Linked DNA regions of Homo sapiens. The protein of the gene in region 1 purifies or fractionates together with the protein of each later gene. This does not show direct contact. Each region holds a gene or a part of one and is shown in the gene's direction. Other genes may lie near its edges.

Region 1 (7,033 bases):
CTACTAGGGGCTCAGTGACAACTATCTGGAGAGACATTCATTCATCTCGATCCCACATGAAGAGAGCATTTCTCCTGATTATATAAGAAGTGGGTCAGAAAAGCCTGTCCAGTGAAGTATTGCTGCCTTCAAAGTGTAGAAAACCTCACTAAATCTCCTTAGTGGAAGGAAGTTCACTGTACAACAACTTATTTCATATTTATGATAGTATTTAGACATATACAAGGCTTTTTCACATCAAGAAACCTTATTCACATAAGGCATCTCTATCCTGCCCTTCATTTTACCAAGTCATCTGGAGCAGCAATCGCCAACCTTGTTGGCATGAGGGACCAGTTTTGTGAAAGACAACGTTTTCATGGACTGGGGTCAAGGAATGGTTTGGGGATAATTTAAGTGCATTACTTTTATTGTGCCCTTTATTTCCATTATTATTACATTGTGTAATAATATATAATAAAATAATTATACAACTCACCATAATGTAGAATCAGTGGGAACCCTGAGCTAGTTTTTCTGAAAGTAGATGGTACCATCTGTGAGTGATGGGAGACAGTGACAGTTCATCAGGTATTAGATTCTCACAAGGAGCCCACAACCTAGATTCCTCACATGAGAAGTTCCCAATAGGGTTTGCCCTCCTATGAGAATCTAATGCCACTGCTGATCTGACAGGAGGTGGAGCTCATGAGGTAATGTGAGTGATGGGGAGTGGCTGTAAATACAGATGAAGCTTCACTTACTCATTCGCTGCTTACCTCCTGCTGTGCAGCCTGCTTCCTGACTCATCCATGGACCAGTACTGATCCATGGCCTAGGGGTTGGGGACCCCTAATCTAGAGCACTTGGAGAACTATCTGTTCTCCAAAGCTGATCAAATGCTATCATTAATGTATCTAATATTTTAAGAAAGGGTAACACTGTTGAGAGCCAAATAGATACATGGCCCAGAGCAAGCTTAAGTTACTAATAACTCCTTTTTCAGCTCACCCCCTGCTGAAGGCATGAGTTTGAATCTCAGTTTTGCCATTTGCTGTGTAATGTATGCAATTATATTTAGCATCATATTTCTCACTTGAAAAATGAAAATAATACATTTAATACTTAACAGGAGTGTCAGAAAGTATATTAGCACTTGGTAATTTATACAATACAATATAAAAGTAAGAAATTTTTATTTTATTTATTTTTATTTTATTTTCAGCAATAAGAGCTAACTGCCATCAAGAGCCATCAGTATGTCTTCAAGCTGCATGCCCAGAAAGCTGGATTGGTTTTCAAAGAAAGTGTTTCTATTTTTCTGATGACACCAAGAACTGGACATCAAGTCAGAGGTTTTGTGACTCACAAGATGCTGATCTTGCTCAGGTTGAAAGCTTCCAGGAACTGGTAAGAAAATAGTTCTGGCCAGAATCAAAGATTCAGCCCTACAAGGATATGTTTTCCTGTGAAATTATCTAAGAGGTAGGTTTAGACATCTGCTTTTACATTGATTTTTTTTTTTTTTTTTTTTTTTTGCATAACGAAAGAGTAACCTAGCATGTATTATATTTTACAGTGAACCATCTAAAATTACCTTAATATTCGTGGCAGGAACAGGCCCAGAGGGCAAGCAAGCCAGAGCCTTCTTTGACTTGTGAGCCAGAATTGTGCAAATAAGGATTAGAAAAGTATTGGTAGAAACCCAGTTTTAAGTTTGTATGAAGTTAGCAACATTGTTTCAAAATAAATCAAACAAGGCCAAGAGCAGTGGCACATGCCTGTAATCCCAGCACTTTGGGAGGCCAAGGCGGGTGTATCACTTGAGGTCAGGAGTTTGAGATCAGCCTGGCCAACATGGTGAAACCCCATCTCAACTAAAAAATACAAAAATTAGCTGGGCATGGTGGCATACGCCTGTAGTTCCAGCTACTCAGGAGGCTGAGGCAGCAGAATTGCTTGAACCTGGGAGGTGGAGGCCTACAGTTAGCTGAAATCATGCTACTGTACTCCAGCCTAACAGAGTGAGACTCTATCTCAAAAAAATAATAAAATAAAAACAATAAGTCAAGCAAGAATGATGTCATAGAGGTTGGTAGACTAAAAAGCTACAGAAATCTGTTCCTCCACTGAGAAAACTATTGAACTGTCAAAAACTGTCTGAAGTAACTATTTTGGAATTCTCGAGTCTAGTTAAACACTGGAAGCATCAAGGGAAGAGTTTGATAAAGAGGATGATAAATTTTGGTTAATGTTGGTGAATTTCAGCCTTTCCACTCAATAATAACTATTTTCCATACCCCATTATTGCAGGGATCCATGGGAACTGCTGCCCATGTTCTTGTAATGAATTCCTGCAGCCAGGGTGAACAATAAGCACCTTTTTGTCCAAATGTCAGGGTTATTGCTGATTTCTGCCTTTGAATGCTGAGGGGCAGACACAGAAGTGGGCTATCATTGCATCAGTCCTCATCAGCTGAAGTGGCTTCCCAAGGATTTAAATAAATAGTATGTGTTTTTCCTCCCTTTAGGAAGCAGTCATTTAAGACAATTTTTATTAGATAACTGGCTGACAGCAGAGATAACAGAACAGAGATTTCAATGACCATGCACAACAGAGAATAAAAATAGTTGGGAAAAAATCATGACCAAATGACTCTGAGCCACAACAACCAAGATTTGACAATCCCTGAAGAGCAAAATAATTAAGTTACCAGAGTTACCACAACATAGTATTCATAATGTCCAGTTCTCAAAAAAAAATTACAAAACATGCAAAGAAAAGTATGGTTCATTCACAGGAAGAAAAAGTAATCTGACAGAAACTATCCCTGAAGAGGCTCAGATATTAAAAATATGAGTCAAAAATGTTAAATCAGCTGTCTTAAGTATAACCAATGAGTTAAAGGAAACTAGACAAAAAGCTAAAGGAAACCGAAAACATAATAAATGAACAAAATTAGAATATCAATATAAAGGTAGAAATTGTAAAAAAGAACCAAGCAAAAATTCCAGAGCTGAAAAGTACAATGACTGAAATTTAAAAATAATTTTAAAAACTCAATGAAGAAGTTCAACAGCAGATTTGAGAAGTAAGAGATCAGAAAACTTGAAAATAAGATAATTGAAACAATCCAGACTAAGAAAAACAAAGAAAAAGAATGAAGATAAATAAATTCTAAGGAACCTGTAGGACATCAGCAAACATACTAACATATGTACTGTAGAAATCCAGGAAAGAGAAGAGAAAGAGAAGCAGAGAAATACACTTAAAGAAATAATGAACAAAACTTTCCAAAATCTGAGGAAATACATAAATATATACATCCAAGAGGCTCAATGAACTCCAAAAGGGTAAACTTAAAGAGATCTACATTGAGACAAAATATAGTCAAGTTGACAAAATCCACAGAGAGAATTTTGAAAGCAGCCAGAATGAAGCAACTCATCATTTACATAAGACCCTGAATAAAATTAATAGCTGATTTTCTCTGAGAAACCATGGAGATCAGAAGGTAGTGGAATGGCATATTTAAATGTCTGAAAGAAAAAATAAAACTGCCAACCATGAATTCTATGTATAGCAAAGTTGTCCTTCAAGAATGAAGGAAAAAGTAACACATTTTCAGATAACCAATAATTAAGGGATTTTATTACCAGTAGACATGTGCTACAGAAAATGCTAAAGGAAACCTTTTAGGCTGAACTGAAAGTACACTAGACAGCAATTCAGAGCCTCCAAAATAAAGAATATTCATAAAAGTAACAATAGAGGTAAATATAAAACCCAGAATTACTACATGTGTCATATAGTTTATAACTTCTCCTATTTATAGCTTTCTATATTTATATTTATCTATAACTTCATAGGCAAATGAATAAAAATTATAAATATGATAGTGGTCATATAATGTATAAAGATGCAATCTGTGACAGTCTTATGAAGCAGGGATGAAGACATATAGGATCAAAATGTTTGCATAGTTATTGAAGCTATGTTGATATTATGAAATTATATTGTTACAAGTTTAAGATGCTAATTATAATTCTCAAGGTAACCACTAATAAAATTACCAAAATTATGCAGAAAAGGAAAAAAGAAAAACAATACACTATAAAAAACCAATTAAATACAAAAAAAGTCAGTAACAGACAACTTGAGAAACAAAGACATATAAGATATAGAGAAAACAAATGATTAAATGGCAAAAGTAAATCTTGTTTTAGTAATCACATTAAATAGAAAAGGATGAAGCCATCCTATTAAAGGGCTGAGACTGACAAGTTGGCTAAAAACTAAAATAAATTAAAAAGAAAAACAAGACTCATCTACATGCTGTCTATAAGAGACTTGCCTTAGATATAAGGACACAAAGAAGTTGAAAGTAAAAGGACTGAAAAAGATATTCCATACAAACAGTAGTAACCAAGATAGTGCCGAGTGGCTATATTTTTGTCAAACAAAATAAACTAAAGTAAAATTTACAAGAGAAAAAGAAGGGCATTATGCATTGACAAAAATTTTGACATAGCCAAATAATTATGTTATAAAATATATGTACTTAATAATACAGCCTCAAAATATATGAAGCAATAATTGCTATAATTTAAGGGAGAAAAGAACAGTTCTATGAAAAGTTAGAGAATGAAATATTCCACTTTCAACATGAGATTAAACAACTAGACATAAGATCAATAAGGAAATAGAAAATTTGAACAACACTATAAACCAATTATCCCTAACAGGCATATACAGAAGAATCTACCCAACAAGAGCAGAATATTAATTCTTCTCAAATGCACATGGAACATTCTTAAACCATATGTTAGGCCACAAAACAAGTGTTAGTAAGTGTGAAAATTTGAAGTCATAAAAAGTATCTTTTGCAATTACAATGGAATGAAGCTAGAAATCAATAACTAGAAAAACCAGAAAAGTCACGCATATGTAGAAATTTAAAAACCCGCTCTTCAACAGCCATTGGTCAAAGAAGAAATCACAAGGGACATTAGAAAATACCTTGAGACAAATGAAGTAAAAATACAAATAGCACGTTTATGGTATACACTGAACATAGTTCTAAGAGGGAAATTTATAGCTGTGAGCAGTTAACTAAAAAAGAAGAAAGATCTCAAATCCATAGCCTAACTGTACACTGTAAGGAACTAAAAAAAGTAAAACAAAAATAGAAGTCATCTTTATGATTTGAAAGAGTAAAAGATTTACCTAATAAGTCCCTAAATTTACTAATAATAAAGAAAATTGTTTATATATTTAATTGCGTTAAAATTCAGAACTTGTAATCATAAAAAGGACAGTACACATTGACAAGGAAACACAGCAAAGGAAACCAGCCTATGCTGCTGCTGTTGTGAGGATAATTTGGTACACTTACATTAGTTTGGTGTCTTTTCTTTCTCTTTCTTTCTTTCTTTCTTTCTCTTTCTTTCGTTCGTTCGTTCGTTCGTTTCTTTTTGAGACAGAATCTCACTCTATTGCCCAGGCTGGAGTGCAGTGGCGTGATCTTGGCTCACTACAACTTTTGTCTCCCAGGTTCAAATGATTCTCATGCCTCAGCCTCCCAAATAGCTGGGATTACAGGTGCATGCCATCACGCCCAGCTAATTTTTGTATTTTTTTTAATAGAGAGGGGGCTTCATCATGTTGGCCAAGCCTAGTCTCAAACTCTTGGCCTCAGGTGATCCGCCTGCCTCGGCCTCCCAAAGTACTGGGATTACAGGTGCTTGGCCTGGTGGTGTCATTTCTTAAAGTTGACAAAAAGCATATCCTGGGGCCTAAAAATTCTATTCTAGGACAGGTGCCAAGAATGTCATAGTAGCATACATTCCAAACTTGATAAAACCCTGGTGTCAACCGATAGTATAATAGATAAATTGGAGAAGAGTCATACAAAGGAGTACAATACAGAAACAAAAGTAACCAAATTATCAACAATTTCTCTCAGTTTTAAATTATCTTCTTTTGATATGTATGATAATATAGCACACCTATTCTGTATGTATTACTAAACAATACAAAATCAAAAGGAAGAAAATTATGAGTAGTTAAGAATATAGCATAGCAGCAACATTTCTGGGAGAGGATGGGTTATGTTAGATTAATGAATATCATCTCTGTGTTTTCTGAAAGAATTTCCTGTTGAGATATAAAGGCCCATCTGATCACTGGATTGGGCTGAGCAGAGAACAAGGCCAACCATGGAAATGGATAAATGGTACTGAATGGACAAGACAGTAAGTTCTAAAAATCTGGCAGTAATATTTGTATTTGAATTTACTTTGCATTAAATCTGAAGTGTTCTCTAGTTACATGCTTTAAAAAATTCTCATTTTAAGGTTAGTCATGAAAGAAGATGGTGCCAACTTGTATGTTGCAAAGGTTTCACAAGTTCCTCGAATGAATCCAAGACCTGTCATGGTGAGGTAGACTGACTGTGAACTTGGCTCCAGGCTTATCTATGTCATTTTCAAACACTTTCATTTTAAGCAAACCATACAATATCTTTAAGTCTGTTCCTTACCTCCACAACAAAATTAAATTGCACTTGTCCTCCTGATTTCACAGGGTTGATGTGAGGAACAGAGGTTTTGATGTATCAGGGAAAGATTATGAGTGACAGCAATTATACCTATTATTTAAAATAAGACAATAGTTTTAAAATTTTAAAATGGGTAAAGTTTGGCACTAGAAAATTTAATCTCAATTGTATATTTATAGGATCTTCAGATTACTAAAAAGATTTGAGATAATGCTGGAAAAATTGGATTCACACAATTTCACTCAATGTTTGTCTGAGAGATGAGACAGTTTTGAAAAGCTACTTTATTGTAATACATTCATCAATATTGGAAATATAACTTTATTTAATAAAAAGAGCCCCAGACTGGACATTGGCAGGTTTGAAATGAGTTTTTTCTCATTAGCTTTTGACCTTGGATGGGATGGTAAGTTTTAGAAATCAGAGAACATGTACATTTATACATTGTTGTATCTACACTGCCTTGCACATTGTGACTGCTTCATAAATATCTA
Region 2 (4,490 bases), on another chromosome or scaffold:
ACCATTGCACTCCAGCCTGGGCGAGAGAGCGAGACTCCGTCTCAAAAAAAAAAAAAAAAAGTAAAGTAATAATAATAATAATACTATATTCTTTTTCTTTTTTTTTTGAGACAGAGTCTTGCTCTGTTGCCCAGCCAGGAGTGCATTAGTGTGATCTTGGCTTACTGCAACCTCCACCTTCTGGGTTCGAGTGATTCCTGTGCCTCAGCCTCCTGAATAGCTGGGATTACAGGCATGTGCCACCAGGCCGGGCTAATTTTTGTATTTTTTGTATTATTATTATTTTTTTTTGAGATGGAGTCTTGCTCTGTCACCAGGCTGGAGTGCAGTGACTCGATCTCAGCTTACTGCAACCTCCACCTCCTGGATTCAAGCGATTCTCCTGCCTCAGTCTCCTGAGTAGCTGGGACTACAGGCATGCACCACCATGCCCGGCTAATTTTTGGTAGAGACAGGGTTTCACCATGTTGGCCAGGATAGTCTCAATCTCTTGACCTCGTGATCCGCCCACCTCGGACTCCCAAAGTGCTGGGATTACAGGTGTGAGCCACCACGCTTGGCCATTTTTGTATTTTTGTATTTTTTTTTTTTTTTGAGATGGAGTCTCACTCTGTCAGCCAGGCTGGAGTGCAGTGGCGCAGTCTCAGCTCACTGCAACCTCCACCTCCCGGGTTCAAGCCATTCTCTTGCCTCAGCCTCCTGAGTAGCTGGGATTACAGGTGCCCGCCACCACGCCTGGCTAATTTTTATATTTTTAGTAGAGACGGGGTTTCACCATGTTGGTCAGGCTGGTCTCAAACTCCTGACCTTGTGATCCGCCCGCCTCGGCCTCCCGAAGTGCTGGGATTAAAGGCATGAGCCACTATGCCCGGCCCATTTTTATATTTTTAGTAGAGACGAGGCTTTCGCCATATTGGCCAGACTGGTCTCGAATTCCTGGCCTCAGGTGATGTGCCTGCCTCAGCCTCCCAAAGTGCTCGGATTACAGTTATGAGCTACCATGCCTGGCATTTTTTTCTTTTTAATGCTTTTTTAGTCTACATAAATTACTACCATACGCTAATGTTTAGAAAGCAAATAAATTGAACCAAATCTGGTCACCCAATTAAAAAACAATTTTACTAATAATTCAGGCCAAGCGCGGACCTCCTGGCCTCAAGCAATCCCCCTGCCTCAATCTCCTAAATTGCTGAGATTACAGGTGTGTACCACCATGCCTGGCGAAGAGTTTATGTACTTTAATTCACCTTTTTCTTGCCACTAACAGATGTCCCAGCTAGTGGAATGTATTTCATGACATATGAATGGCTGAAAAATATCTTCACTCCGGAGGGAAAGAGGTGAGGAAAACATAACTTGGAAGCCACTTTCCCCAGTCATGGGTGCGTTGCCCTCTCCTGTGGGTGAATCTGAAAGCAGAAGTAGTTGTTGTTCCTGGCTCCATGTCTGCTTTCCTCTTGTGGCTGCTGAGGTCCAGCTAGCTCTTCTTACTCTGTGCCTCAGCCAGTGGAGCAAATATTTGAAACAGGTGCATGAAACCTTCTCCAAGGAGTGCCAGCAGCACTGGCCTTATACCTCCTCCCTCCAACCAGTTTCTGCCTGTCTGTAACTGCCCTGTCTGCCACAGGCAGGATAGTCTGAATGCCACTCTCACAGCCTTTGTCTAACTGGGGCTGTGGTTGGTGTTATACAGGGTCAGTGAGCTCAGTGCCCCTCGGATCTTGGTGGCTGGGGGCATTGCAGGGATCTTCAACTGGGCTGTGGCAATCCCCCCAGATGTGCTCAAGTCTCGATTCCAGACTGGTGAGTGGAAGGTAGTGGGGTGGACAGGGGGAGAGTGGGTCCCCAGCACTGGCTAATCCTGGGGTGCAAAGCTCATAAGGCCCTAGGGATACTCACTCTCCATGGCAGCACCTAGCATCTGCCTGACCAATATTCTCCCTCACAGTCATTTGCATTCTAGGAACCCTAGATTCATTTTCATGACAGCCTAAACACAAGGTAAGTGTGATAAGAAGTCAAGTCCACTCTTCCTCCCCCACATGAACAGAAGGGCTGTTTCATTCTTCTTCCCTCGTTTCTATTCCCTTGGCACAAGTAATTCAGGCATTTGTGCATTTGTCCCAAGGTGAACTGTTGTCTATGGACTGGTCCCACATGACCTGCAAGGTGTCCTTTCCCTGTGCTAGTCCTGACCCTTCAGGAAGACTTAACTGCTAGTTTCTCCTTCCTGAAGCCTTAAAAATTGGGTTCTGCCCCACAGCACCTCCTGGGAAATATCCTAATGGTTTCAGAGATGTGCTGAGGGAGCTGATCCGGGATGAAGGAGTCACATCCTTGTACAAAGGGTTCAATGCAGTGATGATCCGAGCCTTCCCAGCCAATGCGGTGAGTAGCTGGCAGGGCTGTGCTTTCCCTCTGGGGCTCAGGGCAGGGTGCATGTGGTTTGACTTTTGCTTGTTCCTGGGATAGGACTGGGGTCTCAGTTTTCCCAAAGCCCTATCTTCAGCCAGAGCATTCCTTATTTGCTCCCTTCCTTGAAGCTGTCAGGAGGATTTGCCTTTGGGGATCTCTGAGGTGAGGGGCTTTGATTTCCTGACCTGGCCATTAGAAGTGGGCAGTTGTGAGGCCAGGCATGGTGGCTAGTGCCTGTAATCCCAGCACTTTGGGAGGCTAAGGCAGGTGGATCATCTGAGGTCAGGAGTTTGAGACCAGCTTGGCCAACATGGGGAAACACCGCCTCTACTAAAAATACAAAAATTAGCTGGGCGTGGTGGCGGGTGCCTGTAATCCCAGCTACTCAGGAGGCTGAGGCAGGAGAATTACTTTAACCTGGGAGGCAGAGATTGCAGTGAGCCGAGATTGTACCATTGCACTTCAACCTGGGTGACAAGAGCAAAACTCCATCTCAAAAAAAAAAAAAAAAGAAGTGGGCAGTTGTGGAATATAAATTTTCTTCTCCTCTTAAAAATGAGAGAGTAGAGCTTGCATCCTTGATGTGGAGTGGGTGTGGGGTTAGGGAGGGGCTCTGGTCCTGACAGGGCCAGCAAAGCATAGTGCTTTGAATAGTCTATGAATAGTTATTCCTGCTGGCTTTTTTCTTCCTCCCAATCCCTTCTTAGGCCTGTTTCCTTGGCTTTGAAGTTGCCATGAAGTTCCTTAATTGGGCCACCCCCAACTTGTGAGGCTGAAGGCTGCTCAAGTTCACTTCTGGATGCTGGAAGCTGTCGTTGAGGAGAAGGAGTAGTAAGCAGAACTAAGCAGTCTTGGAGGGCAAGGGGAGGGGAATGGTGAGATCCGAGCCCTGTGCATGGACTTGGTGAGACTGTTGCCTTAATGACATCCTGCACCGTGTATAACTTAGTGTGTCATTTTGAAACTTGAATTCATTCTTATCAATTTAAGGGATCTTAAAAGGATTTGGAAATGGAACAAGTAGCTTCCAGACCAGATACTACCTGTGGCAAGAATGCTGCCTACCAGTTAACTGCTGGTCCTACCACAGTCAAAGTATTCCTCATTAAAGAGAGAATCTCAGGTTCTCACTGGAGGCACTGTGCATATTTTCAACCAGATCACCAGGAGCTGAGATCTTCTTCAGTCCCTAGCCAGGAATACCCATTTGATTTCCAGGGTGCCATCTAATCCTGGGCTGTACATGTGGATATGGACTTGAGGCCCACCTCTGTGTCCAAGTGGATTGAGCATATATGCCTAGGAGGAGATAGACTGTTAATCGTTGGATTTTGATTTTTTTTTTTTATGCCTGCAAATAATCAAAAGTAAAACTGGAGTAGCCTAATTTTCTGGGAGCAGGTGGAGAACTTTCCCTCCTACACAGTGAGGACAGTCCCAGTCTGCTGGGATAAGTGAGAAAGCCCAGGGTGTAGGAAGGCCCTTTTTACATACTCTTTTCTCATGAGAGCTCACTATTTTAACAATAAACAATAAACGTTGTTTCTAATTTTTGCATTGTGTTATATTTTCTTCTTTTGATTCTGGGACATTTCAGCAGGCAGCCTGTAGCCTTGGTGGAGGCTTTCAGGGATCCAGTATTCTTCCCTGGGAACCTTAGGCTGGGGATCCAGCAGGAGGAGGTGGAGGAGGAGGAAGTTTTGGCTGGCTCTGCCTTCTCTGACTGCCCTAGCCCCGGCTGCTCTAGGGAGGGTGTGTGGGGTGGTGTGACCCGACTGGTAATTGTTCACACAGGCCTCAATGCAAGCCTGGCAGACAGGCCCTCCCAAGGCCCAGCCTGCAACCCATCCCTTCATTTATTCCCCTCTCTTCCCTGAGCACCATGGGTGTCTGAGCTAACAGATGGAGAGTCAGTTGTTCTAAAAGGACAAAAGCAATCTCGGGTTTTCATGTGGGCTTTGGAGTTGCTGTGCGATCTGAGGTAGCTAGCTTAACTTTACTAATCAGGCAGATTATGCTATCCAGGTGTGTCCAGAAAAGGTGAGGGAGTTGGAGAGTCATAAGCTAGATTATTA
Region 3 (7,051 bases), on another chromosome or scaffold:
CTGTTGCCCAGGCTGGAGTGCAGTGGTGTGATCTTGACACACTGCAACCTTTGCCTCCCGGATTCAAGTGATTCTCCTGTCTCAGCCTCCCTAGTAACTGGAATTACAGGCGCCTGCCACCATGCCTGGCTAATTTTTGTATTTTTAGTAGAGATGGGGTTTCACCATGTTGGCCAACCTGGTCTTGAACTCCTGACCTCAGGCGATCCACCCACCTCAGCCTCCCAAAGTGCTAGGCTTACAGGCATGAGACACCGCGCCCGGCTTATATATCATTACTTTCTTGGCTGAGAGCTGTAGTCTGTGGTAGTTGTTTTGTTTTGTTTTTTGTTTTTTTTTTGTAGTTTTCTTGATCGTGATCAATTAAGCAGAAAGTAGAATTTCAGTCAGGTAACCTGTCTATATTAGCTAAATTATCTTTTGCTTATTACATAGAGTGCTAGAAGTATGCTGTCATGGCATATGTCCTAGTTTCTCATCAAATGGACCAAAGTCAGTGATTTTATTTGAAGAGGAAAAATTGAACGTCATTGTAAATTAAGTTGCAAGTTTAGTAACCATATTGTACCACTGTTTGATAAATTTGAACGCTTTATGGTATTTCATATTTAGAATGTTCAAAATAGTACTGAAGTATTCAAATACATACAACCCTGAGCGATATTGAAGTAAAATAAACATGTATTTAAGGAAGTGTCAACCTTCAATTATATACCTTTTTGTCACTGAATTAACACTTATTTCTCACGACGTGGAAGCAGTTTCAGTATGGTTTGTACTAAGCTAAGTGATAGTTGTCATCTGTATGACAATTTAGAATGTTTTCTGTGTCCATTTGTGATCAAAATTATATGTTGCTTTGTGTGATAAAACCTGGTGGTGGTAGTAACTTTGAACACACTTTTTGAACTTAATTTTGTAGTTAATCTTATCCTGATGAGTAATTCTAAAACTTATGACCACTACTAGAAATGAAGCAGTTTTTTGTGTGTGTGTGCCATCACAGTATATACTGACCTTGGAGCTTTCCTAGTGCTCTCAGAGCCATGAAAATATCCTTTCACACAAATTTTCTCAACTTACCCGTAACATCGCTTTGAGTTTCAGTCATACCTAGAGTTGGAAAGTCGTCAAATTAGTCCTCTGTCCTCAAGTATCTGTAAGTCTGAAGAATTTAGGTAAGTTACTTACCTTAAAATCATTGCCAATCCTTTAAACTCTATTTGGATGGCTGTGAAATATTTTAACATTAGGGTTAATGTCATAAATCCCATTCTTTTTTTTTTTTTGAGACCGAGTTTTGCTCTGTCATCCAGGCTGGAGTTCAGTGGTGTGATTTTGGCTCACTGCAACCTCCGCCTCCTGGGTTCAAGGGATTCTGCCTCGGCCTCCCAAGTAGCTGGAATTACAGGCGCCCACCATCACACCTGGTTAATTTTTATATTTTTAGTAGAGACAGGGTTTTGTCATGTTGGCCAGGCTGGTCTCGAACTCCTGACCTCAGGCGATCCACCTGCCTCGGCCTCCCAAAGTGCTGGGATTACAGTCGTGAGCCACGGTGCCCAACCTCATAAATCTCATTCTTAATTTCACTCTAGGACAGAATTATTGTAGCACCTGTGTTCTGTTATTTTAGATTCATTTTAACTTACCTAGACACGGGTACTGTGGTAGTTGTAGAGGTACAGATGTTGAGTTCCCATCCTCCTGGCTTAATGTCACTGGGGTTATTAATACACTTCATAAGCATTTTAGGGACACCTGCTGTCTGCTCAACCCCCAGCAAACCTGATTATTTCTTGAAGACATTCCCTTCTATGCTTGTGCATTGGTAAGGAGGATTAGGGATGATGCATTTAAAGACAAGAGTTTTAGGCTGGGCCTGGTGGCTCATATCTGTAATCCCAGCACTTTGGGCAGCTGAGGTGGGAGGATCATTTGAGGCCAAGAGTTCGAGACCAGCCTGGGCAACAAAGGGAGACTCCCATCTCCACACACAAAAAAATAAAAACTAGCCAGGTGTGGTGGTGTGTGCCCATAGTTCCAACTACTTGGGAGGCTGAGGTGCAAGGATCGCTTTAGCCCCGGAGTTTAAGGTTACAAGGACCTATGATCACACTTCTGCACTCCAGCCTGGGTGACAGCAAGACTCTCAAAACCAAACAACAACAAAATATATATATAGCTCTCTAGGTTTTTATGTTAAATATTAGAGTGCCTAAGAATGTACATGGTTGGCAGAGGATCTTGCAGCTCATAGTGATAAACTTTAGTATTTACATAAAAATACTAGATAGCTAGTAGATTCAATGTTCTGCTTCTGAAAAAGATATATTTTTGGTTTTGCCTTTTAGTGAATTTCTTTTGGATGCTTAACACAATGTTAATATAGTTACAAACCAACTTGCTAATATTTGGAAACCCACTTAAAAGCTATCTTCATTTCATATGATGTGATTTTTAAGATTTTAAATTTGGGGCTGAGTTTGTATCTTAATAATTAAGGCTGCACACATTGACAACTACAAAATAATGCCTGGGAAGATGAGTCCTGAGGCTAATTTTATATTTATGTGGATGAGTGTGGAGGGGGATAATAATTCTGAAATACTTAATCACAGACCTAAAATGTAGATCTATGGGTAATTTTAAATGTTGCCTGTCAAGGCTTAATAGGGACTTGACAACAGCTAGGATGGAAATTATTTCAACACTTAAATATGCTTACTTTGTGCCGGACGCTGTTCTAAGTCTTTTACAAATATTTACTTGATATTTGTATTTTGTGTACTATTTTGATTTCTGCAACATTATTAGGCTTCATACTCTTCTGTGGGAACTGGGTTCAAATGGTTCCAGATGAAAATACAAATAGTCCTGTGATTAGTTTTGTTCTACATCTTATGACAGATACTTCATGAAAGGAAATATGAAAAGGCCACATCTTGCTTTGAAATAAGTGAGATGGAGCCTCTCCCTCTTTTTACTGTTAATGTTCATAGTTTTAAAAATCCTAGAATTTTGCTGCTTTTCAAAATGTTAAGTTGGAAAGCAAGAATAAAATGACCCTTTTTTCAAATGTTTTCTGTACCATTTATTGCATTGTTTACATTTTATGCATCTCATTTCTAAATGAACTCATGGTAACAGAGACTGTAACACTTTTGCATCACCGGAATCTTCTAGGTGTGTAAAATGATGGACGAGTGAATGAATAAATGGGGGAGTGGTTCAGAGCTTGGAATGGCGCTATGAAGGTGGTGAAGTGACGTCCCTACCCCCTCAACACACATATAAAAATTATGAATTTATAAACATTTTCCTCTTGATGTAATTTTTCAATGGAGGGAAGAGGATAAATTCATAGTTCTGGCACTTACATCTGGAATTAGGCTACACAGTCTACGGGAAGCAAGTTAACACAGTCTAACAGATGCACGTGAATTTCATGCTGGGCGAAGATGAACTATGTGGAAGATGACTTATAAGGAGCTTTTATGTTACATCTTGGCAGTTAACACAGTCTAACTGATGCACGTGAATTTCATGCTGGGCGAAGATGAACTATGTGGAAGATGACTTATAAGGAGCTTTTATGTTACATCTTGGCAGTTAACACAGTCTAACAGATGCACGTGAATTTCATGCTAGGCAAAGATGAACTATGTGGAAGATGACTTATAAGGATCTTTTATGTTACATCTTGGCCTGAGGTTAGGAAACTAAAGATGACAAAGGCACTGTTTTAGTATGGGTTTTCTGGTTTCGCTTTTGTCGTGGGGGCGGGGTGGGATAGTGGACTCGTACCCTAACAAAGACCCACTCGAGGCTGCGTGTCGGCCCGGGGGCAGCAGGGGGCAGGAGAAGCTGGCTCTAGACCACGCGTTCCTTTTCACGTGACCAGTCGCTCTCTTTCCCGTGGCGGCCCTGCTTCCGGCAGGGGCATCACCCGGAAGTGGGGGTAGTCGAGGGAGGGAGGGGTAAAGGCGGCTGGCCGCCGCGGCGGGGGGTGGGAAAAGAGAAGCAGAGGGAGGAGTTGTTGCTGCCGCCGCCGCAGCCGCAGCTACTGTGACTTCTCCGATTGTGTGAGCTTTGTTGGAGCCTGCGTACGTGGATTTATCGCTGCCACGGTCTGCGTAGCTCCAGAGGTTTAACCATAGGATAGAGAAACCAGGTAAGTCCTACATTGGCTTCCCGTCGTCCTTTCTCCTGGAGGGGGTCTTCTGTGCTGTCAGTTTGTACTACGAGTGTGGTGAGAAGGTCATGTTAGTCTGGGGCAGTCTCGAAAGTTTCACTTATTCACAATTCAGGTATTAACTACATTTATGTTTTACCTCCCCTAACAGGGGATAGAGGAGGGGAAATTAAATCCTGACCTGTGTCACTTTCTTGTACCCTCTTGGAGAGAATGTCCTGATCATCCATGGCCTACGTTACCCAATTAATTGAGGGTACAAGAAAGTTTGTGTTTGGCATTGAAAGTCACATGGACTGGGGTCTTTGCTTAGTGACACCTCTTTATACTTTGGAAGCTAAGGTTACTAAAATGACCATAATTGATGAAATAATAATTGAAAAATAGATATTTGGCTTCTTGTCTTGCTCTGGGAGCGTAAGGTAAACTGAGAGAACTCTTGTTTCCACTTAGTTTTGTTCATTGTGCCCCCTTTCCAGTAAAGTTACTGTCCATTGTCCGACCCTGTGGCATCTTATCTTTGACACTTTTCTTCGTTGTAGACGTTGAGATTATCTTAAGCACAAACACTTATCGTTTCACAATTCAGCGTTTGTCCAGGATCTGATCTTTATTTTAATCACAGACTCTTTATCTACAATAGTATGGCTTTGTATTGAGAATATGTGCAGAACATTGAATTAGATGATACTGAGGTTATTAATTTTTTTTTTTTTTTGCCGGGTGCGGGGGGGTGGTGGGGAGGGGGTGATGCACAAGAAATAAGACAGAGTTCCTGGCCTCAAAAGAGTTTACTTACAGTAGGCTGGGCGCAGTGTCTGACACACCTGTAATACCAACACTTTGGGAGGCCGAGGAGGGTGGATCACCTGAGGTCAGGAGATCGAGACCAGCCTGGCCATCATGGCGAAACCCTGTCTTTACTAAAAATACAAAAATTAGCTGGGCGTGGTGGCGGGCGCCTGTAATCCCAGCTAGTCGGGAGACTGAGGCAAGAGGATCGCTTGAACCTGGGAGGCGGATGTTGCAGTGAGCCGAGATCGTGCCACTGCACTCCAGCCTGGGCTACAAGAGCGAAACTGTCTCCAAAAAAGAAGAAAGAAAAATAAACAGTTTACATACAATTGAGTCCGAATTGAGTCAGTTGAATTCAGCTATGAAGACAACGGTTTCTAGCAGCCCCACTGACTGAATTACTAGGTTGCTTATCACATCCTTTTCAATGGTTATTTTTGAACTGGCATTTTATTATATTTAACATTTTCTGGTGTCTAAGGTCATGACATGAGAGAGTTTTTTTTGTACTTGAGGATCTCAATGTAGTAGGAAAGAAAGATACACGATTACCTAAACATTTAAAAAATCTCACTAACGTTATATATTAGAAACAGGAGGTGTTATGAGAGTGCAGGGAAGGGAGCATGTGAACTGGGCTTTGAAAAATAGATAGGATTTAGCTTTGCAGGAATGGAGGAAGAGGAAGACATCTATCTGGACTGATAGATAGAAGAAATAATGTGAGCAAAGCCATGGGGGTCTGGAAAGTTGCCCGACATCCAGTAACACACTGTAAGTCAATATTCCTATTTCTAACAGCCACATCTTCCAAGATGTCACTGATTAAAATTAGAAAAAATATAGAATACAAAACTAGTCAGCTCACAAACATATCCAACTGCCCTCCAGCCAATAAGAAAGCTTATATAGAGAAAAAAATACATGGAAATGACAAAAGCAATGTTAATGTATGAGGCTTAATTCTGATGTAAACTCAAATCTAAAAGAGAAAAAATGTAAAACTCGCTATACTTTAATTCTGATTGAGTGTTGTGCCTTAAATATAATTTGGAATCATTTTTAAAATTGTTGGGAATGAATAACATTTTCTGAAGTGAGCAACTGTTCCAGGTTTTCCCCAAGGAATCTCTGCTTTTCCTTTTTTCCTCTAAATTGATTTCTCTCTATTGATCTTCTTAACTTGATAGGAACTATTCTATTCCGATCACAGCCTTAGAAAGATCTTGATGCCTGCCCTCAAGATAAGGTTAAACACTAATCCCTCCAAAGGATAGGTTAACATCTCTGTTCTCTAAAGCAGAAGGTTGATTTTCTTTGAAAAATGCTTGCAGAAGCAGTAAAATTTGCTTACAAAACAAGAGAGAGAGAGAAAAGAGTGCAAAAATAACCCCAGCTAACACACCACAACCTTCACTTCTGTGAGGGCGCTAAAGGAAATACATTTTAAAAAAATAAATTCCTTGTTATAACTCCTTTTATCTATATATTTAAAAGCTCTTGGCAAACTTTATTAATCAAGACTTTGGACATCCTGATGAGTGAAAATAATCTTCATTTGCCAGTTGGGAAAGTAAATTGCAAGGAGAGATTTTTGTCTGAACTCATAGAAGCACTAGCATAGATGAGAATAGTATTTGGGAGTTTTGTCTCAAAATTCCTTCTATTCATCTTTGTTAAAGGGCAGTTCAGGTTTTAGCGTTTTGTTTTTAGACAACGATATTTCTTAGGATATAGCTCAACATGGGGCCGGGGCAAGGGGGAGGCTGGGGGACAGATGAGTGATAGGCAATGGTTAGGCAGAGTATTTTAGTTCACTCTACCATCCCAGCAATCATGTTTTTCCCTCTTAAATCTCAGTCTTCAGGTTGATTTAATGTGATATTACTTGCTTACTTAACTTGCTGAGATAGTTTGGCAGGAAAAATATCAAAATTCCTTTAGAATGTGTTTCATTAAAGTAAAAGGGTCCTGTGTTTCTGATTTTATAAAATGTTCTTACTTTTTCCAGCACTGTTTGCAAATTGAAGTGATTTCCTAATCTTTTTGTGCCCAAATGTA
Region 4 (7,082 bases), on another chromosome or scaffold:
AGGTTCAAGCGATTCTCCTGCCTCAGCATCCCGAGTAGCTAGGCTTACAGGCGCCTGCCACCATGGCCAGCTTATTTTTGTATTTTTAGTAGAGATGGGGTTTCACCATGTTGGCCAGGCTGATCTCGAACTCCTGACCTCACGTGATCCACCCACCTCAGCCTCCCGAAGTTTTGGGATTACAGACGTGAGCCACCGCACCTGGCCCAGGAAACATTTTCTTCTGGCCAATACTCTGGCCCTTTTGACTGTAAGGAAGTATGTGAAAGGGGGCAGTTTGCATGTTTGCGGAGTGGGCATATGTGTGGGAGTTTATTGAGAAAGATGGGGAAATGGTAAGATTTGTCTCCTGGGGGTTAGCACCCCTCCCGCTTATGGGCTTGGTGTGGTTTAAAGAAAGTGAGATGCAGAAATGCTGATCAAGGTGGCTCTGGGTCTCATCCTGTGAGCCCTGAATGCCCCATGCAGGAAGGGCACCATCTCAGGAGTCAGCTGGGCTTGGTGTCCCACACTGCCCCATGGACCTTGGGTCACTCCAGAGCTTTCCTGAGCCTCAATTTCCTTATCTGTAGAATGGGGATAATGATACCTTCCCCTCAGAGTTGTGAGTTTTACATAAGAAGAGGATATAAAGATAAAGTGGCCCAGGTTGGGCATTCAACAAATGTTAGTTGCTTCCCCACTTTTCCTTTCCCACATCAAGTTTACCTATGCATTGCATGCAAGCATCTCTTGAGGACATGCTATAATATGAGGTGCTATCCTGGCTGGGATGAGGGGAAGAAGCTCAGTAAGGAGCTTGATTCTAATCCTGGGTCTGTATGCCGAATATAGCAGTGAAGTTAGATCCTACAGTATAAGACAGAAGGAGGCAAGTGCCTTAGAATCCAGATGGAGTTCTATGGGACCTTAGAGGATAGAGACTCGATTTGTAACCAGGGCTGGGACAGGTGGGAGATGAGGTCAGATGGGGTGCCCAAGGAGAATGCATTAAACCTGGGTCTTGCAGGATGGTGGGGCTTAGATTTGGGAGGCGAAGGGCAGTTCAGCAGAAATGGTATAAGGGAGATAGGAGTGGCAGGGAGGGAAGGCTGTGTGGAGGACAGCGAGCTGTCCAGCCTGGCTTGGCCAGAGGGCACAGGGAGGAGAACCCTGGGAGACAGACTTGAGAACGTTTAGTTGGAATCATACCACAGCAAAACTCAAATTCCAGGCTGAAGCATTTGAACTTTATGCCAAAGGCACTGGGGAGCTATCGGAGCTTTTTGAGCAGGAGAGTGTGATGTGCTGTGCTTTAGGCAGGCTGATCTTGGCGGTGCTACATGGAACAGACTAGACAGGGTGGAGTGGAAGGAGGTGACTCCATGACCTAGATGAGGGATGGGCAGGTTGAATCCTCACAGCAGCAGTGAGAAAGGAGAGAAAGGATTGGGCAGGAGAGGCACTTTGTGGATCGTTGTAAACATTTCTGTTTATTTTTCATTATAAAGAATTTAAGCGGCTGGGCGCAGTGTCTCACTCCTGTAATCCTAGCATTTTGGGAGGCTGAGGCAGGTGGATTGCTTGAGCTCAGGAGGTTGAGACCAGCCTGGCCAACATGGCAAAACCCCGTCTCTACTAAAAATACAAAAAATTAGCTGGGTGTGGTGGCACGCACCTGTAGTCCCAGCTAATTGGGAGGCCAGCTGAGGCAGGAGAATCACTTGAACCTGGGAGGTGGAGGGTGCAGCGAGCCGAGATTGCACCACTGCACTCCAGCCTGGGTGACAGGGCGAGACTCCGTCTCAAAAAAAAAGAAAAGAATTTAAGCATCCACAAAAGTAGAAACAGAAACATTTAATGAACCTCTACGTGCCCGTTCCCCAGGTTCAACAATGGTTAATTTTTTATTTTTAAGAGACAGGGTCTTTCACTGGAGTGCAGTGGCACCATTACGGCTCACTGCAGCCTCAAACTCCTGGGCTCAAGTGATCCTCCCCACTCAGCCTCCCTAGTAGCTGGGACTACAGGCCCAGCTACCATCTGCCACCATGTCCAGCTACTTTTTAAAAACTTTTTGTAGCGACGAGATCTTGCTTTTTTGCCCAGGCCGGTCTCAAACTCTTGGGCTCAAACAATCTGCCCACCTTGTCCTCCCAAAGTGCTGGGATTACAGGTGTGAACCACCATGCCCAGCCTAAGAATGGTTAATTCATGGCCAATTTTGTTTAATCTCTACTCCATCCACTTTTCTCTTCCATCATATTTTGAAGTGAGTCTAAGATATTGTGTCATTTTATGGCTATTGCAGCGTGCAGGAAGAGGTATGACATTTTGGAAGATGAGTTGATGGGCCGTGCCACATGGGTATTGTGTCTCTGTGTGCCTGTACATACTCTCTTATGTGGAATTGCAATGGCTGATTTGACTCTTCCAAGTTGGGGGTCTTTTAAGGGCAAAGACCACCCTCCAGTGGCCAGGCTGTCTTCTCCTCCCCATGGAGTGCTTGGTATATGGTGCGACCGTCAGTGTGAACAACCTAGTTCCACTGGAAGAAAGAGGCCTGTTATTGGACCCTTTGGGCTATGGCCATCGAGACCACGGGTAGCTTTTCTGCTCAGGTCACGCTCTGATATGTTGTCAAATAAAACACAGGACACTCAGCTGGGTTTCAGTTTCAGATCAACAACAAATATGCCTGTAACATAAGTATGTCCCACACATTGCCCGGGGCATATTTATAGTAATAAATGACGTTATTTTTCTGAAATTCAAATTTAATCAGGCTTTTTTTTTTTTTTTTGAGATGGAGTTTTGCTCTGTTGCCCAGGCTGGAGTGCAGTGGCGTGATCTTGGCTCACTGCAAGCTCGGCCTCTCGGGTTCACGCCATTCTCCTGCCTCAGACTCCCGAGTAGCTGGGACTACAGGCGCCTGCCACCACGCCCAGCTAATTTTTTGTATTTTTAGTAGAGACGGGGTTTCACCGTATTAGCCAGGATGGTCTCGATCTCCAGACGTTGTGATCTGCCCGCCTCGGCCTCCCAAAGTGCTGGGATTATAGGCGTGAGCCACAGCGCCCAGCCCAGGCATCTTGTTTCTATCTATTTATTTATTTTGTTTTGTTTTTGGCTAAATCTAGTCAATCCTATCCTCTGGTCTTTTCACAGAAATCCTGCAGATCAAAGCCTTTGACCTAGGGCAGTGCTTTTCAAAGGGTGGTCCCAGGACAGCAGCATCAGCAACTCCTAGCTCAAAACAAGATCTCAGGCCAGGCGCGGTGGCTCATGCCTATAATCCAGCACTTTGGGAGGCCCACACGAGTGGATCATTTGAGGTCAGGGGTTCGAGGCCAGCCTGGGCAACGTGGTGAAACCCCGTCCCTACTAAAAAAAAAAAAAAAAAAAAAAAAAAACAAAAATTAGCGGGGCTTGGCAGCATGCACCTGTGATCCCAGCTACTCGGGAGGCTGAAGCAGGAGAATCGCTTGAACATAGGAGGCAGAGGCTGCAATCACCCGAGATTGGGCCACGGCACTCCAGCCTGGGCGAAAGAGCGAGACTCCATCTCAAAAAAACAAAAGCAAAAACAAAAAAATCCCAAAATGTCAGCCCCACCCAGAATGACGGAACCAGAGCCTCTGGGGGTGCTGGCATTTTGTGTTTGACCCCCTCCAGTGATTCTTTTGAGGGTCATTGACTGGAGAATGATGCCGATGCCATCACATTACCCGCCCCCAGCCTCTCCCGCAACACACACACAGCACATCCTGCTCTGCTGCGCACCCAGTGGCATGGACCTGGCTGCCAAAGGTGTAGAAGCATAAGTAACATCAGGGGTGTTACAAAGGGCTCTTTCCTTGGGTGTTTGTAGCTTCCCTTAGGGCTGCAGTCACTCGCAGACTGCTGGGCTCTTGGCCTCAGGGCTCTGTTCTGCCCGCCCAGATCTGTTCCTGAGCCTGCAGACGGCTGTGAACCAGAGAATCTATTCTTCAGGCGGGAGTTGCCAGTTGCGGCCAAGGGGGCGGGGCCCGGAGGCGGGAGGGCCACGTGTGCGGGAGGGAAGCAGGAAGTGACTGCGGGAGTGGAGCCGGCGAGAGAGTGGCAGCGGGGGCTGATGGAAGTGCAGTGGGGGCTGGAGAGGGCACCCTAGTGAGTTGGCTTTTCTCTCCTTCGGTGCCTTTGGTTGGGCTCGAGGCCCGGGGTCGGAGGCCATCAGGACAAGAGTGTGGGACTTGGAAGGGCAGCCACCTGGAGCTTGGAAGGGGGTACGCCTGGAGAGAGGAGGGGTTTGGAGGAGAAATTGGAGGCTTTGGCAGGTGTCGGGGCGGGGTGGGAGGGTGAGGGGCGGTGGGAAGGAAGTCCCCGGACCCCGGCTATGTCCCTCTCCAGGGTGATCTGGAAGGCAATGACATGCCTTCCTTTTACAGTCCTAACCCAAATCCTCTTCGTTCGTCCCTTCCTAGGCGGTGTGTGGGGGTACCCGGGATTCCTGGGAGCAGAGGCAGCTACAAATCCAGCTGCTCCCAGGCCCCTCCCACTTGCTCTGGCTGTTAGCTGGACCTCTGGAACTTGACTGGGAATCTGGTTAACTTGCAGCAGGTCTGGGTGGGGCGTGACAGTGTGCATTTCTAACTAATTCCCAGGTTGGGTGGTCCGCGGACCACGCTTTGAGTAGCGAGGCATTAGAGAACTTTTCCACAGTCCTCTCCGCCCAGACCTGAATCCTTCTGCTGGATTCCCCCTCGTGGAGTTAGGGCATGTGTGTGCAGCTCCACTAAGGCCCAGCAGCCCTAGTGCTGTTTCCACTTCTGCAACTTCACCAGCCTCTTGAACTGACTCTTGGAAGCGGAACAACAGGTTTAAAAGGGGGAGAAAGGAAATAAAGAAAACAAACCTGTATCAATCAGCCGGGAATGCCCATGTGCTGCTGTGGCAGGTGTGTACAAGTCTACAGGCTGTTGGCATGTTAAAAGTTGGAACGGTCAGAGAATGATTCTCCCTGCTGCTAACGAATCAGGGTTGATGGAATTAATATCCCCATCGTGAGGAATTCTGAGCCCCATTGTGTAAGCTGTGATGGAGATGCTGTGTCCTAAAGTTGTTACTGGTCTGCCGGTTAGAGAAAACTTCTTGTTCTCTTGGGACTCTGCCAGAAACTTTTTCTTCTCTTGAGACTCTGCAGAAAACTTTCTGTTCTTTTGGGACTCTTCTTTGCTCTTGCCAATCCCACATGGGGCAGGAGAACTCATTTTCTAAGCTCTTGGTATTGTAGAAGTTTTACCAGTTTTATTTATTTATTTATTTTTATTTTTTTTTGAGACAGAGCCTTGCTCTGTCACCCGGACTGGAGTGCAGTGGCGCGATCTCGGCTCACTGCAACCTCCGCCTCCCGGGTTCAAGCGATTACTCCTGCCTCAGCCTCCCGAGTAGCTGGGACTACAGGCACTGGGACTACAGGCACACACCACGACGCCCAAGTAATTTTTGTGTTTTTAGTAGAGATGGGGTTTCACCGTGTTGGCCAGGCTGGTCTCGAACTCCTGACCTCAGGTGATCTGCCCGTCTTGGCCTCCCAAGGTGCTGGGATTACAGGCATGAGCCACTGCGCCTGGCCAAGTTTTACCAGTTTTAATCTTTTGCTTTCCACAGTTTAATGTGCATAAGAATCCCCCATGGAATTCCACAAAATGCAGACCCTGATTCAGAAAGTCTGGGGTGAGACCTGAGTTTCTGCATTCCTAACTAGCTCCCAAGCCGGACCAGTGCTGCTGGTTCTCTGACCACCCTTGTAGCGAGGATTTAAAACAGCAAATAGAGAAGAAACTTCTCCGAGGGGCACTGGGCTTGCATTGCCCGTGATCAATGCTGCTCCTGTTGGGATGGAAAGGATGGTGGCCTCGGTCTTCCCTCTGTGTCCCTTTTTCTTACTCAGGAGGGTGCTCAGATATACATGGGGACAGGCTTAGACGGGTGTTTCCCTATCCCACTAACCACCAGGAACACCCACGAGCTCCCTCTGTTCTGTTCACCAGCCCACAAGATCCACATTGACTTTGGCCTGTTGGCAAATGTAAATTGTTTGCTCTCTTCTGTAGCTGTCAAGAGGCACATTCAAATACAGGAAAGAAAGGTGTTTTTGTTATGCCCTGTCTTGGATGATAAGTACTAAGAGGATGATCCCTTTGTGCTGTTCTTTGTAAATGCTGTTTGAAATTTTGTCCACAGCAACTCGGAATAGATGATTGGTGTAATGGTCCAGATGGCTTGGTTTAAAAACAAAGACCAACCCCTCTTTTTAGGGTGGCTTAGCAAGATGACGGATGTAAAGGGTAGTAGTTTTTTGAAAATGATTTTTTTTTTCTTTAATTGGCGTGGTCACAGTTTTCACAGTTGGTGCAGTTCGTTTAGAGTGCGGGAACTAGAGTCTGATTCCATAGATGCTATTTATCTCAGAGTTTCTGGCACAGGGGCTGAGCCAGGGCTCACCTGGGCTCACCTGGACCTATACCCTTCCTAGGTTTGAGCCTGGGTGTGTTGCTGAGCCGCTTGGCATAAGGGCTGCGTCCACACTCTGCCATGGTTTCCTTCCAGGGTCAATCGAGGCAGCGTCTTCAGCTCTTGATCTGCAGGCTCAGGGCTGCTGGCTCCTCACAGAGCACCGGGAACTGGCAGGGCTGAGCCCAGTGTGGTTGTGTCCAGCCAGCCCTCTGGGTGCTGGCAGACCATCAGGGAGATGAATGAGGCTTTGATATGAGGCCCTGAGCCCAGTGTTTGTGTACCAGAACACAGGGCTTTTCAACAAATGGGTTTCTCTGCCTTGTAACTTTCCACAGGGAGAGATCTGATTGTCATCTCAGATCCAGAATTTTAAGCATGTTAAAGTCTGGAGGAGGTTCTCTGGACTGAAATGAGAGGGAGTGGTACTTCCCTTCCTTTCCTTGGTGGGCGGTGGTGTAACTTCAGCTTCAGCAGCAGGGTGCTGAGTTGACCAGGGGACATTCCATTCCTGGGTCCTTTTGCTTGTCCTTGCTGACTGTCCTGTGCAGGTAAGCTGGCCCTTTTCCATCCAGCACATATTTTTCAGGGGTTACAAAGCCCTATTT

Evidence for each region.
Region 2: the proteins of CLEC2D (region 1) and SLC25A20 purify together in Homo sapiens (affinity purification with mass spectrometry; 2 studies listed by BioGRID and IntAct, with this or other methods). This does not show direct contact.
Region 3: the proteins of CLEC2D (region 1) and ATP7A purify together in Homo sapiens (co-immunoprecipitation; 3 studies listed by BioGRID and IntAct, with this or other methods). This does not show direct contact.
Region 4: the proteins of CLEC2D (region 1) and SLC39A11 purify together in Homo sapiens (co-immunoprecipitation; 3 studies listed by BioGRID and IntAct, with this or other methods). This does not show direct contact.

What each region holds. Positions count from the first base shown.
Region 1 is NC_000012.12:9,686,698-9,693,730, forward strand, and holds part of CLEC2D (C-type lectin domain family 2 member D), read left to right. Parts: intron 1-1,204; coding exon 1,205-1,389; exon of another isoform or gene 1,390-1,464; intron 1,465-6,130; coding exon 6,131-6,234; intron 6,235-6,336; coding exon of another isoform or gene 6,337-6,418; intron 6,419-7,033. UniProt on the Homo sapiens protein: Receptor for KLRB1 that protects target cells against natural killer cell-mediated lysis. Inhibits osteoclast formation. Inhibits bone resorption. Modulates the release of interferon-gamma. Binds high molecular weight sulfated glycosaminoglycans.
Region 2 is NC_000003.12:48,856,405-48,860,894, reverse strand, and holds the end of SLC25A20 (mitochondrial carnitine/acylcarnitine carrier protein), read left to right. Parts: intron 1-1,267; coding exon 1,268-1,340; intron 1,341-1,693; coding exon 1,694-1,803; intron 1,804-2,263; coding exon 2,264-2,388; intron 2,389-3,122; coding exon 3,123-3,185; 3' UTR 3,186-3,969; downstream 3,970-4,490. UniProt on the Homo sapiens protein: Mediates the electroneutral exchange of acylcarnitines (O-acyl-(R)-carnitine or L-acylcarnitine) of different acyl chain lengths (ranging from O-acetyl-(R)-carnitine to long-chain O-acyl-(R)-carnitines) with free carnitine ((R)-carnitine or L-carnitine) across the mitochondrial inner membrane, via a ping-pong mechanism.
Region 3 is NC_000023.11:77,906,662-77,913,712, forward strand, and holds the start of ATP7A (copper-transporting ATPase 1), read left to right. Parts: upstream 1-4,031; 5' UTR 4,032-4,174; intron 4,175-7,051. UniProt on the Homo sapiens protein: ATP-driven copper (Cu(+)) ion pump that plays an important role in intracellular copper ion homeostasis.
Region 4 is NC_000017.11:73,089,657-73,096,738, reverse strand, and holds the start of SLC39A11 (zinc transporter ZIP11), read left to right. Parts: upstream 1-4,050; 5' UTR 4,051-4,128; exon of another isoform or gene 4,129-4,244; intron 4,245-4,622; exon of another isoform or gene 4,623-4,915; intron 4,916-6,888; exon of another isoform or gene 6,889-7,025; intron 7,026-7,082. UniProt on the Homo sapiens protein: Zinc importer that regulates cytosolic zinc concentrations either via zinc influx from the extracellular compartment or efflux from intracellular organelles such as Golgi apparatus. May transport copper ions as well.